Linked DNA regions of Homo sapiens: all the other regions are linked to region 2. Evidence: fine-mapped expression QTL. A gene starts in region 2. Each other region holds a variant in brackets. All regions are shown on one strand. Distances are from middle to middle. Region 1 has its middle 44 kb from the start of ADORA2B. Region 2 holds the start of ADORA2B (adenosine A2b receptor). Region 3 has its middle 29 kb from the start of ADORA2B.

Region 1 (5,222 bases), 44 kb after region 2:
GGTGCTTGGGGGGAGGGTCTCTGGGTAGCATTCAGCCTAGAAGGTGCTTTCTTCCCCCTACATAGTGCTAAAGTAGGCCTTTCTAAGTAAAATTTCCAATTTACATAAAAGGTGAATTTAGCAGAGTTCCCACTGTATCTAGACAAAAATACAGCCTAAAGTGGGTAACCACAGAAAATAATATATATTTTCCATTTCAATCTTATATTTTTCATTTTAACCTGAAATATACAACTATACATACTCATTTGCCCATCCAATGATTTGAACCTAGGCCTTTTATTTGAGCATGGTCCAAGGTTGAGGGCTTGATGCCATGTTTCTTGCAAAAGCCAGACCCAAAATAGACAGTCCAGAAAGCCCTAATTTACTTTTTAAAAATTTTCAAGTGGAGCAAAAATTTAAAGACAGTTATGAAGCAAACTGCAGAATCCATCTAGATGTTTATAATTACTTCCAATCTTTTAATAACTACTCATTGTGAAACACAAGATACATTTGAAAAATATATAAAATATAAATTCATAATTTAATGAGTTATTATAAAGCAAATATATATAATCACCTCCCAGATCACAAAGTAGCACACTATCTGCATCCCAGAAGCCCCCATGGGCCCCTTCCCATCACAACCTGCCATGACAGGTTGCCAGTGAGCCCTCCAGAATCTTCTGCACTGTTCATCTGACAAGGAGAATGCTTCTACTGTGCATCTGAAGCTGATTCTGAACTTCAAGGCTACTGAGGAAGTGTAGATCCAGAAGCCGAGTAGCCTTTGTAATGGTATGTCAGCTCTGATACAGGGAAATCATCCTCCCATGTGGTTTGGTGTGGACAGCCATGGGATGGATTAGCATGGAGTAAGTATCCAATTCGTGGGATGCTGAAGACAGAACAAATCAGATGGAAGAGAAAAAGGCTCCAGCCAGGATGAAAATGAACTTGGTTTGGAAAATATTGGCTGATGATAAATGGATGAGCAAAATGTGGTTTATCCGTACAATGGGATATTTGGGATATTATTCAGCCTTAAAAAGGAAGCGACCCAGCGCAGTGGCTCATGCCTGTAATCCCAGCACTTTGGGAGCCTGAGGCAGGTGGATTACCTGAGGTCAGGAGTTTGGGGCCAGCCTGGCCAACATGGAGAAATATTTGTAAAAATACAAAAATTAGCCAGGCATGATGGCGCAGGCCTGTAATCCCAGGAGGCTGAGGCAGGAGAATCGCTTGAACCTGGAAGGTGGAGGTTGCAGTGAGCCAAGATCGTGCCACTGCACTCCAGCCTGGAATGACAGAGCGAGACTGTCTCAAAAAAAAAAAAAGGAAGGGAATCCTGGTACATGCTAATGCTAAACCTGGATGAACTTTGAAAACATTATGCTGAGTGAAATAACCCACTCACAAAAAGACAAATCCCATATGAATCCACTCAAATGAGGTACTAGAGTAGTCAGATTCACAGAGACAGAAAGTGGAATGGTGGTTGCCAGGGGCTGAGGGGAGGGAGAATGGGGAGTTAATGTTTAATGGGCGCAGAGTGCCGGTTTGAGAAGATGAAGAGTGCTGGAGAGGAAGGTGTGACAGCTGCACCCACAACATGAATGGACTCAATACCACTGAACTGTAAACTAAAAATTAAGACAGTGACTCTTATGTGTATTTTACCACAATAAAAAACAAGATAAAACTTCTTGCTCTTGGGAGCTCGTGGTCTTGCGGAGGTGGTGGGGGGAGATTTGCCATATGATCAGATAAATTACAATATAATAGGGCATGTGCTCGATTATACCATGAATAAATTGTGTTTTAGGAGCCAGAGGGTGGACACAACTGTCACCATGGTTGAGGGCATGGGCTCTGGAGCTGCCTGCCTGGACTTGCCTCTTGCCTAGGAGCTGTGTGCCTCAGTTTCCCCCTGTACAGTGTATTCATTTTGCAGAACCTCCATGAGGGTTCAATAAATCCATGCATGGAAAATGCCTAGAATGGGTAAATAGTAAGTAGACATAGTAAATATGAAAAAAAGTGCTTTTCATGTAATCAGCTCAAATTAGCTTTTTTTTTTTTTCTCTTTTGAGATGGAGTTTCGCTCTTGTTGCCCAGGCTGGAGTGCAATGGTGTGATCTTGGCTCACCACAACCTCCACCTCCTGGGTTCAAGGATTCTCCTGCCTCAGCCTCCTGAGTAGCTGGGATTACAGGCATGCACCACCACACCC[G/A]GCTAATTTTGTATTTTTAGTAGAGACAGGGCTTCTCCATGTTGGTCAGGCTGGTCTCAAACTCCTGACCTAAGGTGATCTGCCCACCTCAGCCTCTCAAAGTGCTGGGATTACAGGTGTGAGCCACTGTGCCCAGCCTCAAATTAGCTATTTCAGTATAGCTCATCAAGTTCAGACTGCAGAGTAGGTGTGGTCACGCCTCAGGAATCGCTTTGTGGTGACCTCCCTAGAGGGAGCCTGCAGCACCCAGTCTGTGTGTGCAGCTGCTGTCCCGGTGGGCATGCTGGCACTCAGTGAGCAACAACCTTCATGGACTAAACGGCCCGGTACAGACATGGCAGTCCTGGGGACACACGTTCTGACTGTTTTTACAACAGCGATGTCACATATTCTCCCTCACCAAATTCTTTCTGTGGGGAATTGCTCACACTTGCAATTGGGCTGGCTAAGACGCTTTCCTTACATGGTGGCCGAGGAGGAACACTTTCTAAGATCTGGGAAACGCTGCAGAACTTCACTTTTAAAGATTGCATCCTCTCACACCAGTCAGAATGGCTACTGATAAAAAGTCAGGCTGGGCACGGTGGCTCACACCTGTAATCTCAGTACTTTAAGGGGCTGAGGTGGGAGGATTGCTTGATCCCAGGAGTTCAAGACCAGCCTAGGCAACATGTTGAGAATGCATCACTACAAAAAAAATTTTTTTAATTAGCTGGGCATGGTGGCACATGCATGTAGTCCTAGCTACTTGGGAGGCTGAGGTGGGAGGATCACTTTAGCCTGGGAGTTCAAAGCTGCATGACCTATCATCATATCACTGTGCTTCAGCCTGGGCGACAGGGCAAGACCCTATGTCAAAAAAATAAAAAATAAAAAATAAAAATAAAAAGTCAAAATATAACAGATGCTGGTGAGGTTGAGGAGAAAAGGGAATGCTTATACCCTGTTGGTGGGAATGTAAATTAGTACAGCCACTGTGGAAAGCGATTCGGAGATTTCTCAAAAAACTTAAAACAAAACTACCATTCAACCCAGTAATCCCATTACTGGGTATATATCCAACAGAAAATAAATCATTCTACCAAAAAGACAAATGCACATGTATGTTCACTGCATCACTACTCACAATAGCAAAGACATGGAATCAACTTAGGTGTCCATCAGTGGTGGACCGGATAAAGAAAATGTGTTTGGCTGGGTGCAGTGGCTCATGCCTGTAGTCCCAGCACTTTGGGAGGCCGAGGCAAGCGGATCACGAGGTCAAGAGATCGAGACCACCCTGGCCAACATGGTGAAAGCCTGTCTCAACTAAAAATATAAAAATTAGCTGGGCATGGTGGCACGTGCCTGTAATCCCAGCTACTCAGGAGGCTGAGGCAGAAGAATCACTTGAACCAGGGAGTCAGAGGTTGCAGTGAGCTAGAATCACGCCACTGCACCCCAGCCTGCCGACAGAGAGAGACTCTGTCTCAAAAAAAAAAAAGAAAAAAAGAAAATGTGGTACATATAAACACCATGGAATACTACACAGCCATAAAAAAGAATGAACTGATGTCCTTTGCAGCAACATGGATGCAGCTGGAGGCCATAATCCTAAGCTAACCCACATAGAAACAGAAAACCAAATATTGCATGTTTTCACTTACAAGAGGACGCTAAACACTGGGTAGTCATGGGCATAAAGATGGGACAATAGACACTGGGGACTACAAGAGAGGGAATGGAAGAAGAGAGGCAAGGGCTGAAAAACAACTGGGTGCTATACTCACTACCTGGGTAAGAAGATCAATCATACCCCAAACCTCAGCAGCATGCCATATACCCATGTAACAAACCTGCACATGTACTCCCGGAATCTCAAGTAAAAGTTGAAATTATAAAAATAAATTAATTAAAGTTCTCATGCTTGCTAATATGTTACACCCAGAAACTGCTATTTACTTGAATATATACATATAAGAAAATTTTCCCTGCATAATCTAACTACAGAACTTGATGGAAGATTTATGGATTACTACTGCTGTCAGTTCTGACTGGGTGTAGTTTAAAAGTGTCATGTATAATTCAATATATTATTTTTCTTTTTTTTTTTGAGACAGAGTCTCGCTCTGTCACCCAGGCTGGAGTGCAGTGGTGCTATCTTGGCACACTGCAACCTCCGCCTCCCAGGTTCAAGTGATTCTCCTGCCTCAGCCTCCCAAGTAGCTGGGATTACAGGTGTGCGCCACCATGCTCAGCTAATTTTTGTATTTTTAGTAGAGACACAGTTTCACCATGTTGGCCAGGCTGGTCTAGGACTCCTGGACTCAAGTGATCTGCCCACCTCAGCCTCCCAAAATGCTGGGATTATGGGCGTGAGCTACTGTGCCCGGCCTATATTATTTTTCAATCCACATCACGGTATTGAAAAACAAATGTTTAAGAATGTAGGAAATTTCTATTTCGTTGTTGGAATAAGCTGGTTAAAATGTTCACAAACACTCCTAAGTGACTTTAAGATTACTTATCATGTGTGTCAGCAGCTCCTCACAGACCATCCATCCAAATAAAATCCTTGACTCTGACAATTAAGAACATGATCTCATTCTCTTCCCAGCTAACTTCTGTAGTGCTTTAGACAAAACTTAAGACAAAGACAATAAATTTAAAAAGCAAGGCCGGGCGCAGTGGCTCACGCCTGTAATCCCAGAACTTTGGGAGGCTGAGGCGGGTGGATCACGAAGTCAGGAGTTCGAGACCAGCCTGGCCAACATGGTGAAACCCCATCTCCACTAAAAATACAAAAATTAGCCATGTGTGGTAGTGGGTGCCTGAAATCCCAGCTACTCGGGATTTTGAGACTCTGTCTCAAAAAAAAAAAAAAAAAAAGTGGGAGATTAAGAAAGTGTAAAACCCAGCTACTCGGGAGGCTGATGCAGGAGAATCGCTTGAAACCGGAAAGCAGAGGTTACAGTGAGCCGAGATCGCGCCATTGCACTCCAGTCTGGGCAGAAAAGCAAAACGC
Region 2 (5,222 bases):
TGCACCTCTTCCAGACCTCCAAGCTCTGGACGGGCCAGGAAGGCAGGATGGGGCGAGCCTCAGTGTTCTTCCCTCCTGCCCTTGGCAATGCAAAGAAGCTCAGGGCCTGTGATTCACAGCACTTTCCCCTTAACACACCCACACCCATTTTTTTCAAGACCTCACCCAGCACAAACCAGGACAAGAAGGAACAGATTTAAACTTTCATGGAACTTCCTGCTCCCTGTGGCCTGGGAGATTGTTCCACTAACTCCTCTCTGGGTCTCTGGTCTCTGCCAGGGCAAGTCCAAGGGGTTTCCATTAGATGGACAACTCAGGCTGGGGCTTGTGACTGCTCTGCTGGATGCAAAACATCCAAAATGCCATCAAGTAACAACGATGACACCAAAAGGCAGGGAAGGGATCCAGAAGAGAGAGAAGAAACTGCTGTCCTCCCTAAGCCTTGGAAATCCCTGGGCTGTCACACCTGATGGGAGACATAAGGCCTCCTGGTCCAACAGCACGGGCAGCAGCACATGGAGTGGCCAGACACCCACATAAGGCTCACAGCCCTCCCAAGCAGGAGGCTCCTGTTCCTGCTGGGACCCACGAAACAACCTGCAAGGACCAGGCCCAACACATCTGCCTACTCAAATGGCCTCTGGGAGCATTCTCCGGCTCCATTCCCACAAACACATTCCCCTACAACCACCAGTTTACTGCAGGCAGGCTCCTCCTCCCAAAACAGCAGAGCACTTTTCTCCCTGACTCCTAAACACGGTGCCACACATGGCCTTGCAGAGTGGCCTGATGGCATGGGTGGGGACACGGTGCCAGCTGTGAGTTCAAGCCCCGGCTCTGACACCCATCCCTGATACACCATCCTGGGCAAGACTCCAACCTCCCTGGGCCATCACCCCTCCTCTACGAGATGAAGGTTACAGCACCCGTCCTCTGGTACTACTGCAAGGACTGCTGGGGACACGTTTATTATAAACTGTCTGCACAGAGTTGGCACCCAATAAATGAATTCCTTCCCTTCCTTCCTACTCTGTGATTTAGTTTCCCTGTCTCAGCTCCAAATTTAAAGAGATCTCAAGCTCTCCTCAGAAATGCCAAAGTGGCCCAGGCACCAAAGACAGAGAATAAATACTTTCAACAAACTCTCAATGTTGAAGTCATCAGCTCCAACTGGGAATCCACTCTGGTCGCTGGCTGACTCCATCCCCTGAATCCTAGATTTTCTCAGTGTGGGAGAAAGAGTGGACAAGTAAGTTCGCCACCATTTTCTGCACTTCTCAGCCCGCTCCCAACAGGGCAGCAGGAGATAAATAGTTACACAAGGGCAGTGAGGCTGTAAGGCCGTTTGCCAGACACGAGGAAGCATTGTAACTCCTTTTAAAAGTATATAATCTGAGTCCGTAGCGTTCCCCAAAGTTAACGGACACCTTCCCCTGGGATGGGCCGGGCCGCCTCTCCGCAGCAGACACGTTCTGAAGCTGGCTCATGCGTGTCCATTCTGACGGTGCGAATGCCCAGCGTCCAAAGTTGCCTTGCCCTTAGTGGGAACCTCCCGGGCCTCCGGGAGCCGCAGCACTCACGGGACTGCCGCTGCACCGCCGCTGCGGGCGAGTGTTAGGAACGGCCTTCGTGGCAGGAGTGGAGATGTGATCACCAAAACTCCCGCGCCCCGGGCTCCACCCGCCCACGGGGGTGACGCTTTCCCCGGGGGTGACGCTTTCCCCGGGGTTTCCACGGCGCCTCCCCGGGCGCCGGGGACCGCACTCCCCGGACCCCCTAGAGCTGTCCCTACGCAGATCTCCTTAGAGCGACGCGCATCTGGGATGTCTTGGGTGCCCGGGCGCACTGGTCTAGCGTTGCGGGGTGGCCAGGCTGGGAACCAGCCCTCCAAGCGCCCCGCGCGCCCCCAGCCTGGCCCGTCTGGGGCCCCCGAGGGAGGAACCCCGGCCTGGAGAAGACGACCCATTTCGGAGCTCCGACGGGGCCCCGAGTTCGGGCGACGCCGAGCGCCTCACCTGAGCGGGACACAGATGGCCAGGTATCTGTCGACTGCCACGGCCAGAAGGCTGAAGATGGAGCTCTGCGTGAGCACCAGCACGAAGCAGGCGAGGAAGAGGCAGCCGTAGAAGTCAGTGCAGAAGCCCAGGCTGATGGTGATGGCAAAGGGGATGGCGAAGAGCCCCACGGCCACGTCGGCCGCAGCCAGGGACACCAGGAAGTAGTTGGTGGGCGTCTGCAGAGTGTTCGCCGTGCCCACCGCGGCGCACACCAGCACGTTGCCCGCCACCGAAAGCGCGGCGATGACCAGCTCCAGCGCCACGTACAGCGCGTCCTGTGTCTCCAGCAGCATGGCCGGGCCAGCTGGGCCCCGGGCGCCCCCTACCGAAGGCGCGCCGGGCGAGGGGCAGCCGCGTGAGACCCGCCGGGCATGGCCATAGCGCCCGGACCGCGCCTCCGCCTGCCGCTTCTGAGCCTCGGGGCTGGGGCGCTGGTGGCCGGGACCCACGGGTCGGGGCCCCCCGCGGCCAAGAGGCGGCACCCATTGGCCCGCGCGCCCGCCCGTCTCGGGCTGGGCGGAGCACCACCCACTCGCCCGAGCCCAAAGTTCGCGCCCGCGCGGGGCCCCTCCGGTCCAGGCGCCGTGCCGCGTCTTGGTGGCGGCGGATAACTAACAAATTGCCCCAACTTCCCGTCACGCTCGAGCTCGGAGGCTGTGTCCCAGTGCTCGCACTGCCTTCCAGTCCGGGCGACTCCTGGGATGGGGCCGGGCTCTGCCCGGGGCGCCAGCAGGTCCCAGGAGCCGCCGCGAGAGGACCCCCCAGGGCCGCGCAACCCCGGGCGGGGCGAGCTCACTCCAGGCTAACCCTGCGCACCCCGGGCAGGCCGACTGGATGGGGGGCTGCCGGGCAGGCAGGGAGCCGAGGCCGCAGTCCCCGCTCGTGCAGCAGTCTCGGGCAGCGCAGCACCACCGGAGCTGTCTCCAGGCTGCGGGGCCGGACTGCAAGGAGCCCTCGGGGGCTGCAGCCCCCTCCGGCCGCCTCCCAGCGAGGCTCAGCGCTGTTCTCCACCCTCGCCCGCGCCACTGCCCCTACGGCCCCGCTCTGCCTTCTACCTTAAGACAAGCTCGTGGCCGTCCCATCCTCGTCCACCGCCCGAAAATACCAGTGTTCCCCGGGCCCTCTTTTTTCTTTCCTTCACACTCACCCTGGATCGGCACAGGCTCCCGAGGCCTCCCACGTGGCCCTCACACCCTTAACTCCCAAATCTCTTGCTTCAGCCCTAACAGCCTCCTGAGGGCCAGATCCTAACACCCCACTGCCGACTCTCGCCAGGAGAGAGACTGGTGCCCCCAAATCCAACAAGACCAAAACCAAGCTCATCTCTAATTCTCCCCAAACCTGTGCTGCCGCCTTTTCCTGGGACCCTGTTCGTTATTGACCTGGCAACCCTCACCCACCCTAGGAAGTTTGCTGACACCCTGAGCCTTCGCCTTTCTCCACGTCCCAATGATCAGCAGTGCTGCTGGTTCTGCTTCCAGAGACTTGCTTCCTTTTACCCCCAAAGTCCTGCCCCGAGTCCCTCCTCACCACCTGCTTCTACCATCCCTCCCTCTCTGCCTGTGGGTCCTCAGCTTCTGCAGCCCTCACCAACACCATTGTTCTAGAGCACTCCTGGCCACGCTATTTCACCACCCGAAAGCCTTTGCTGACAGTCACCAAAGAGGATGGGTAAGGAGATTTTCCAGCAACAGGAAAAGATGCTTGTAAAATCATGTAAAGCAAAAATCAAAACATGGGGTGACTGCTAAAGGGTAAAGGATTTTGTAAAGGATTTTTTAGGGTGATAAAAATTTTCTCAATGTGGTGATGGTTGTACGGTTCTGTGGATATACCTCAATGCCACTGAACTGTACACTTGAAAGGCATGCATTGTGTGGCACATAAATTATATCTCAATGTAGCTGTAATGACGACAACATGGCTCACGCCTATAATCCCAAAACTTTGGGAGGCCAAGACAGGAGGAACATTTGAGGCCAGGAGTTCAAGACCAGCCTGGCCAATGTAGGGAGACCCCATCTCTAAACAAACAAATAAAAAATAAATCAGCCAGGCACGGTGGCAGGTGCCTGTAGTCCCAGCTACTTGGGAGGCTGAGGCAGGAGGATCCTTTGAGGCCAGGGGTTCGAGGCTGCAGTGAGCTGGGATCATGCCACTGCATTCCATCCAGGCTGGGCAAAAGAGGGAGACCCTGTCTCTAAAAAAAGACAAGAAGAAGAAAAACCCCTCTGCCCTCCACAGGCATAAACAGTCACATCTGCCCTTGCACCAACGAGGACAGCAAAATGTCAAAAACACACACAGTAGACCTCCTAGCTGGGTGGGATGATTACAGGGAATTTTTTTTTCTATTTCCCTTGAGGTTTTGTTACTTCCATAATGAAAACAGTTGATTTATATATCAAAATATTGGCAAGCCCACACATTCCGTGTCCTGGTCACGTGAGTTCTGGAATCACCTGCTCCACCAATCACGTTCCCACAGCAGTTGACACAAACTTCTGCTGCCACACAGAAGGCCAGAGAGATCAGGCAGCTCCTCCAATAGCACTTCCTTGGAGTGGCAGAGGGCAAAGGGTTAGAGGAGGCTTCCTGGGGTACTGGCTTTTACAGAGTGAGGGAGGCTTCACAGTGGGGTGGTTCCAGCTATACCAGGCAGAGGTGGTAGTTAGGAGTTTGCCCAGGGGTGCCATGCCCAGGAGAGTGAAGAGAAAAAGGCCTAGTGGAGAAGGCTCTGGCTGCCAGGCTGGAGAGCTGGGCCATCCTGCTGGGATGCCAGTCCGCAGAGGTCACAGGACGGGGCGGGGATGGTCAGAGCAATATCCAAAGGAGTGAGTGGAGATTTTGCAGAGGGAGAGGAGGCGAACGGTGTCTGGCTGGTTGCTATGAGTGGTTCCTGCACGCCCTGCAGCTGCTGGGCCTGGGCTCTGCTCTAGCATTTCCTGTGCCCAGAATCACCATTTCCCCTTTTCAGAGCCCAACCTCCATCAGGAAACCTTCCCTGAATCACCCAATGTATTAGGCCATTCTTACATTGCTATAGGGAAATATCTGAGACTGGGTAATTTACAAAGAAAAGAGGTTTATTTGGCTCACAGTTCTGCAGCCTGTAAACCATAGTGCCAGCATCTGCTTGGCTTCCAAGGGGCCTCAGGGAGCTTT
Region 3 (5,222 bases), 29 kb after region 2:
ACTTTTAAGGGGCCAGAAGACGCAAAAGAAGATATAAGCCCACAGCAATGCACTGAATGTTTGTGTGCCCCTCTCCAAATTCCTCTGCTGAAACCTGAACCAAGGTGAAGGTATAAGGAGCTGGGGCCTTGGGGAGGTGACCAGGTCATGAGGATGGAAGGATTCCTGCCCCTGTAAGAGGCCAGGAGCAGCTCCCTCTGTCCAAGTGAGGACACAGCAAGAAGGTGGTCTTGGGCAACCGGGAAGAAGGCCTTTTCCAGAGCCCGACCACGCTGCCACCCCGAGCGCAGACTCCCAGGACCACGAGATAGCAATGTTGTTTCTAAGCTGCCCAGTCTAAGGTGCCTCGCGACGGCCACCTGGACGTACAATCACCCACAAGGATACGGAGGAGGACAGCCCGGGCCCAGTGCAGGCTCGAGAGGGAGGGAGGGACAGCGGCAGGAGGCGGGGCTGGGACCGAGCCCGAGCACTCGCCTGGACAGGCGAAGTTTGGGGTGGCCTCCTGTGGCAGGGGGTTGGGGAGCCTAAGCCAAGGAGCCGAGTAGGCGGTGACTGCGCGCCCCTGCCCGCGCCAGGCCCGGAGCGGTCGTCTGTTGAATGGAGCCCCTGATGCGACCAGCATGGGCCAGGCTAGGCAGGGGCAGGAGCCCTTCGGCAGAGCCCCCGTCACCGGCGCGGAGCCGCAGCCTGGGGAGGCCCCTGCCGCTGGAGTCCGGCCCCGGGAGCGCGAGATTGCTGGGCATCCCTGTTCCCTAGCCCGGAGCCCCGCCTAGGGGAGCCCTCCAGTGCCTGCGGGGGCAGGGCTGGGCAGGGGGAAGGGGTCCTCGGGCGTCAGACCCCAGCCCAGCCTGCACCGTCCACATGGTGCAGGGGCGCGGTCCCAGGATGGGCGGCCGCAGCCCTGAGGAGATTTGGCTGCGCCGGCTCAGCCTGGCGCCTTGTGGGCGCCCCTTGGGAGCCCTGAGGGAACGTGCCCCTCGAGACTCCGAGACTCCGTGGGTACCGCTGTCCCCGCCTAGCCCCCTCTTCAAGAGGACACCAGCGTACCGTGGCAGGCACGGTCTGGCTCTGTTGCCCAGGAGGGAATGCAGTGGCACAATCAGATCTCACTGCAGCCTCTATCTCTCGGGTTCAAGCGATTCTCCCGCCTCTGACTCCCAAGTAGCTGGGACCACAGGCGCCACCACGCCCAGCTCATTTTTAGTTTTTTGTGGAGATGCAGTCTCGTTTTTGTTGCCCAGGCTGGTCTTGAACTCCTGCTCAAGCCATCCTCCCATGTTGTCCTCCCAAAGAGCTGGGAAGCCACTGTGCCCGGCCTTGTTTTTCAATTAAGAGATCACAGCAAGTGCTCCTCCTTCTCCAGGACAGGTGGCCGATGGTGGAGCATTGAGCAGTGGCTAGGAGTGCAGGCTTTGGTGCCAGATCACTTAGGTTTAAATCCTTGCTTTGCCTTCTCCAAGCTGAGCTGCTTTAGGCAAATTATTGAGCCTTTCTGTGCCTCAGTTTCCTGGTCTATAAAATGGTCTGGCAATGACCTAATTCACTGGTGCCACAACCCCTTCTAAGGGAGGAGACCACCCCTCATACTGTCTTATGCCCAATTTCTGCCTCCAAAGAAAGAATTAAAAACTAAAAGGCAGAAATGAAATCCACAGGCAGACAGCCTGGCACCACTCCCTGGGCCTGGTAATTAAAGATTGACCCCTGATGTAATTGGTTATGTTATCTATAGATTACAGACACTGTATAGAAAAGCACTGTGAAAATCCCTGTCCTGTTCTGTTCTAATTACCGACGCAGGAGCTTGCAGACCCCAGTCATGTACCCCCCCTCCTTGCTCAGTTGATCACGACCCTCTCACGCGGACCCCCCTTAGAGTTGTGAGCCCCTAAAAGGGACAGGAGTTGTTCACTCAGGAGCTCAGTTGTTGGAGATGTGAGTCTTGTCGAAGCTCCTGGTCGAATAAAGCCCTTCCTTCTTTAACTCGGTGTCTGAGGGGTTTTGTCTGTGACTTGTCCTCCTACACTTCAACTCAGGGGCTGGCTCAGACCCACAGTCCTGCTGGGCTTCCAGCTGCAGTAGCACAAAGCTGCAGTCCCCAGGAAGGTTGACTTGTTTGGGAGAAGCCTGATTCCCATCCCAGGACACATAACAGCCTGCAGCTCATCCCGCTTACCACTGCCTTTGGAGGGAGACAGCTCTGGGCTGCAAGAGTCTTCGCCTGTTCGTAAGCAGGCAGCCATAGTGAGTGCCATGTGACCCCCCCACCCCAGCTGACAGCCAGGGCAGCCGACTGCTGACTGGTTAGTGACCCGTGAGGTGATCCCATGTGAAAATCAGTGCCTGCTCAGGCAGAATGGGGAGACCTATCGCAGGCCAATCTGATTCTTCAGCTTGTGTGACGGTTAACTTTATGTGTCAACTTCACTGGGCCAAGGGATGTCCACATAGCTGGTTGGACATTGTTTCTGGGGTGGCTGTGAGGG[C/T]GTTTCTGGAAGAGATTAGTATTTGGGTTGGTGAACTAAATCAAGCAGATACCCTCCCCAATATCAGTGGGCATCACCCAATCCACTGAGGGCTTAAATATAACCAAAAGGTAGAGGAATATTTAATTCTTTAGGCCTTTGAACATCACCACTGGCCTTCCTGGGTCTCCACTTGGACACGGCAGACTGTGGGACTTCTCAGCCTCCATAGTCACATGGGGCAGTTCTGTATAATTAATCTCATTCCCTTTCTGTCCACCTGTCTATCTATCACCTATCTATCTCCTATTGGGGCTGTTTCTCTGGAGAACCTTGACTAACACAGCTTGGTAACTATAACTAGAAAATACAGAAAGATTCCATGGATTGTTAATGGGTGGAGAAAGAAAGAAGAGATGACTATGGCAGGCAGAATAATGGTCCCCAGAGATGTCCACTCCTGAGTCCCTGGAACCTGTAAATGTGTTAGCTTACATGGCAGAAGGGACTCTGCAGATGTGATTAAGGTTAGAGACCTTGCAATAGAGAGAATAGCCTGGATTCTCCAGATAGGCCCAATCTACTTAACATGAGTCCTTAAAATCAGAGCGCCTTTCGCAGCAGCAGAGAACCAGGGGAGATGTGACTGGAAGAACAGCCACAGAGGCAACGCTGCTGGCTTTGAAGATGCAGGAAGGGGCCACAAGCTAAGGAATGCAGGAGGCCCCTGGAGGCTGGGAATGGCAAGAAGGCGGATTCTCTTCTAGAGCCTCCAGGAAGGAAGCTGCACTGTGACACCTTGATTTTAACACAGTGAGGCTATGCTGCACTTCTGAACCCCAGGACTGTGAGATACCAAGTTCCTGTTGTTTTAAGCCACTGAGTTTGTGATAATTTGTTACAACAGCCACAGAAAGCGAATACAATGACAGTGAGCAGTCATGACTCAGCCCGAGGTAGTCACGAAATGAGGGTTGCCCCAAAAGACCTGAACTTTGAGGAGAGTTGCCTAAGAAGTTAGGATCTAAAGTCAGTGCACAAGTTGGAAATTCTCCTGTGTCAGTTGCCATCAAGCTACCATCTGGAACATCTAAAAATCCTCTCAAATGGCCCCAACACAGCCAAGTTTTCCTCCAGGGATGCGCTGAGCATTAGATGAAACAGTTAGCTTGCAGTTAAGGTCCATACTGTATCCAAACAAACAAGCAAGCAAAGAAAGCTTTAAATACTGAAACTGCACTCAATGTCATGGGACACTTACACAATGGGTGACCCACAGGAGCTGAGGCTGTAGACAGACCAGCTATATGGTTCATGCTTGCTCTGGGGCACATGATTATTGGCTGCAATGGCAGGTGACAATAGACACATCCTGTTTTTTTTAACAGCTGGGCACAGTGGCTCACACTTGTAATCTCAGCACTTTGGGAGACTCGGATGGGAGGATCACTTGGGGCCAGAGGTTTGAGGCTAGCCTGGGCAACAAAGCAAGAGCCCTCTCTCTACAAAAAGTAAAAATATAAAAAGTCAGCTGGGTGTGATGGCATGCATCTGTAGTCCTAGCTACTTAGGAGGCTGAGGTGGAAGGATCCCTTGATCCCAGGAGTTCAAGGTTCTAGTGTGCTAGGATCATGCCACCACACTCCAGCATGGGCAAGAGAGTGAGATTGTCTCAAAGAATTTTTTTTTGAATTAACCTTATTTTTTCTTCCAACTATAGGTGGTCAAATGTGTGGGAGTAAAATGTGTGTTTGAAATGCCTTCCCAGGACTCAGTATGGCTCATTTTCCTCCTTGCCATGAGCTGCATGTCCCCATGATTCGGGGCAGCCCGCCTAGGTGCCTGTTCCTGGCTATCAGAAGAGCACAGTGAAGTCCTCCTGCCCCTGAGAAGATCGAAGACTCTGCTGTGGTCAAGGTTCCTTCTCCAGCCATATGTGTTGTCTAGGATTAGACTTTTCAAACAGTGGCCAGGCCTTCTGAGGTCACATGTAGCAGTAAAAGCAAGCTGTGGCTAACTTTTCCCATGTTCCATTTTCTGTTTTGCTATTTTTCTGATATGAGGGTAATGATCTGGTTTAAAGGGTGATATAAATAGTAACCCAGATGGACATATGGGAGGGGTGACGGGACCGGCCCTTTGGCCAACACTGCAAGATGTCCAGGCCAAATTTTTTTATAGCATATTTTTCATAATCTAGAAAAATGTTGGTAAGGTTTTAATAAGGCAGGTGAGTCAAGTTACAATGTATGAATTTAATGAGTTTGGAAGGTTCAGAGATTCTGCTTGGAAATGTATTGTGTCCATTCATGATACCATAAGTGATAGTAGCAGAGAAAGAAGGAAAAATGACAAAGGTCTTAGAATGGCCAGGTTTTGAGTTTCCCTCCAGGGGTCCTTCTTGTTTGCAATTCTGGGATTTTCACCATCAAGCTGGAAAAGCTGGAAACAACTGTTGACAAGACTGACTGCAGCTCTGAAACCAGGCTGGATGCGGAGGTGTTTATTCCTTGAGTTCAGTGAAGAATTCCAAGTCAGAATGACCATCAGTGGGAGCTGGATATTTCCACTAATTAATCAAAAATTATCTATTTAGCAACTGTTACACATTAGGCTGTAGCATTTTGAGTCAGTAAATACACAGCTCTGCTTCCAAGGAGCTCAGAGTGCAGGGTGTAAATGCACAGCCTAAGAATCCAAGCCCTTCTGGCTCAGGGAAGGAAGAGCCAGCTGTGGGCCAAGGGACACAGGGTG

The links. PIP is the estimated chance that this variant, and not a neighbour inherited with it, causes the effect.
Region 1: its variant is the best candidate, but not a certain one, in a credible set for the expression of ADORA2B in whole blood (TOPMed, PIP 0.67).
Region 3: its variant is the best candidate, but not a certain one, in a credible set for the expression of ADORA2B in whole blood (GTEx, PIP 0.75).

The regions. Positions count from the first base shown.
Region 1 is chr17:15,898,318-15,903,539 of GRCh38, reverse strand. It overlaps a transcript of ADORA2B not described here. Among named protein-coding and RNA genes, the nearest start is that of ADORA2B, 44 kb to the left of the region's middle. The variant G/A (reference allele first, on the strand shown) is at 2,219.
Region 2 is chr17:15,942,377-15,947,598 of GRCh38, reverse strand. ADORA2B (adenosine A2b receptor) reads right to left here and starts at 2,469. Exons shown (of 2, transcript NM_000676.4): 1 at 2,016-2,469. The coding sequence starts at 2,350. RefSeq lists an enhancer at 1,652-2,466 and a silencer at 2,294-2,913.
Region 3 is chr17:15,913,137-15,918,358 of GRCh38, reverse strand. It overlaps a transcript of ADORA2B not described here. Among named protein-coding and RNA genes, the nearest start is that of ADORA2B, 29 kb to the left of the region's middle. The variant C/T (reference allele first, on the strand shown) is at 2,490.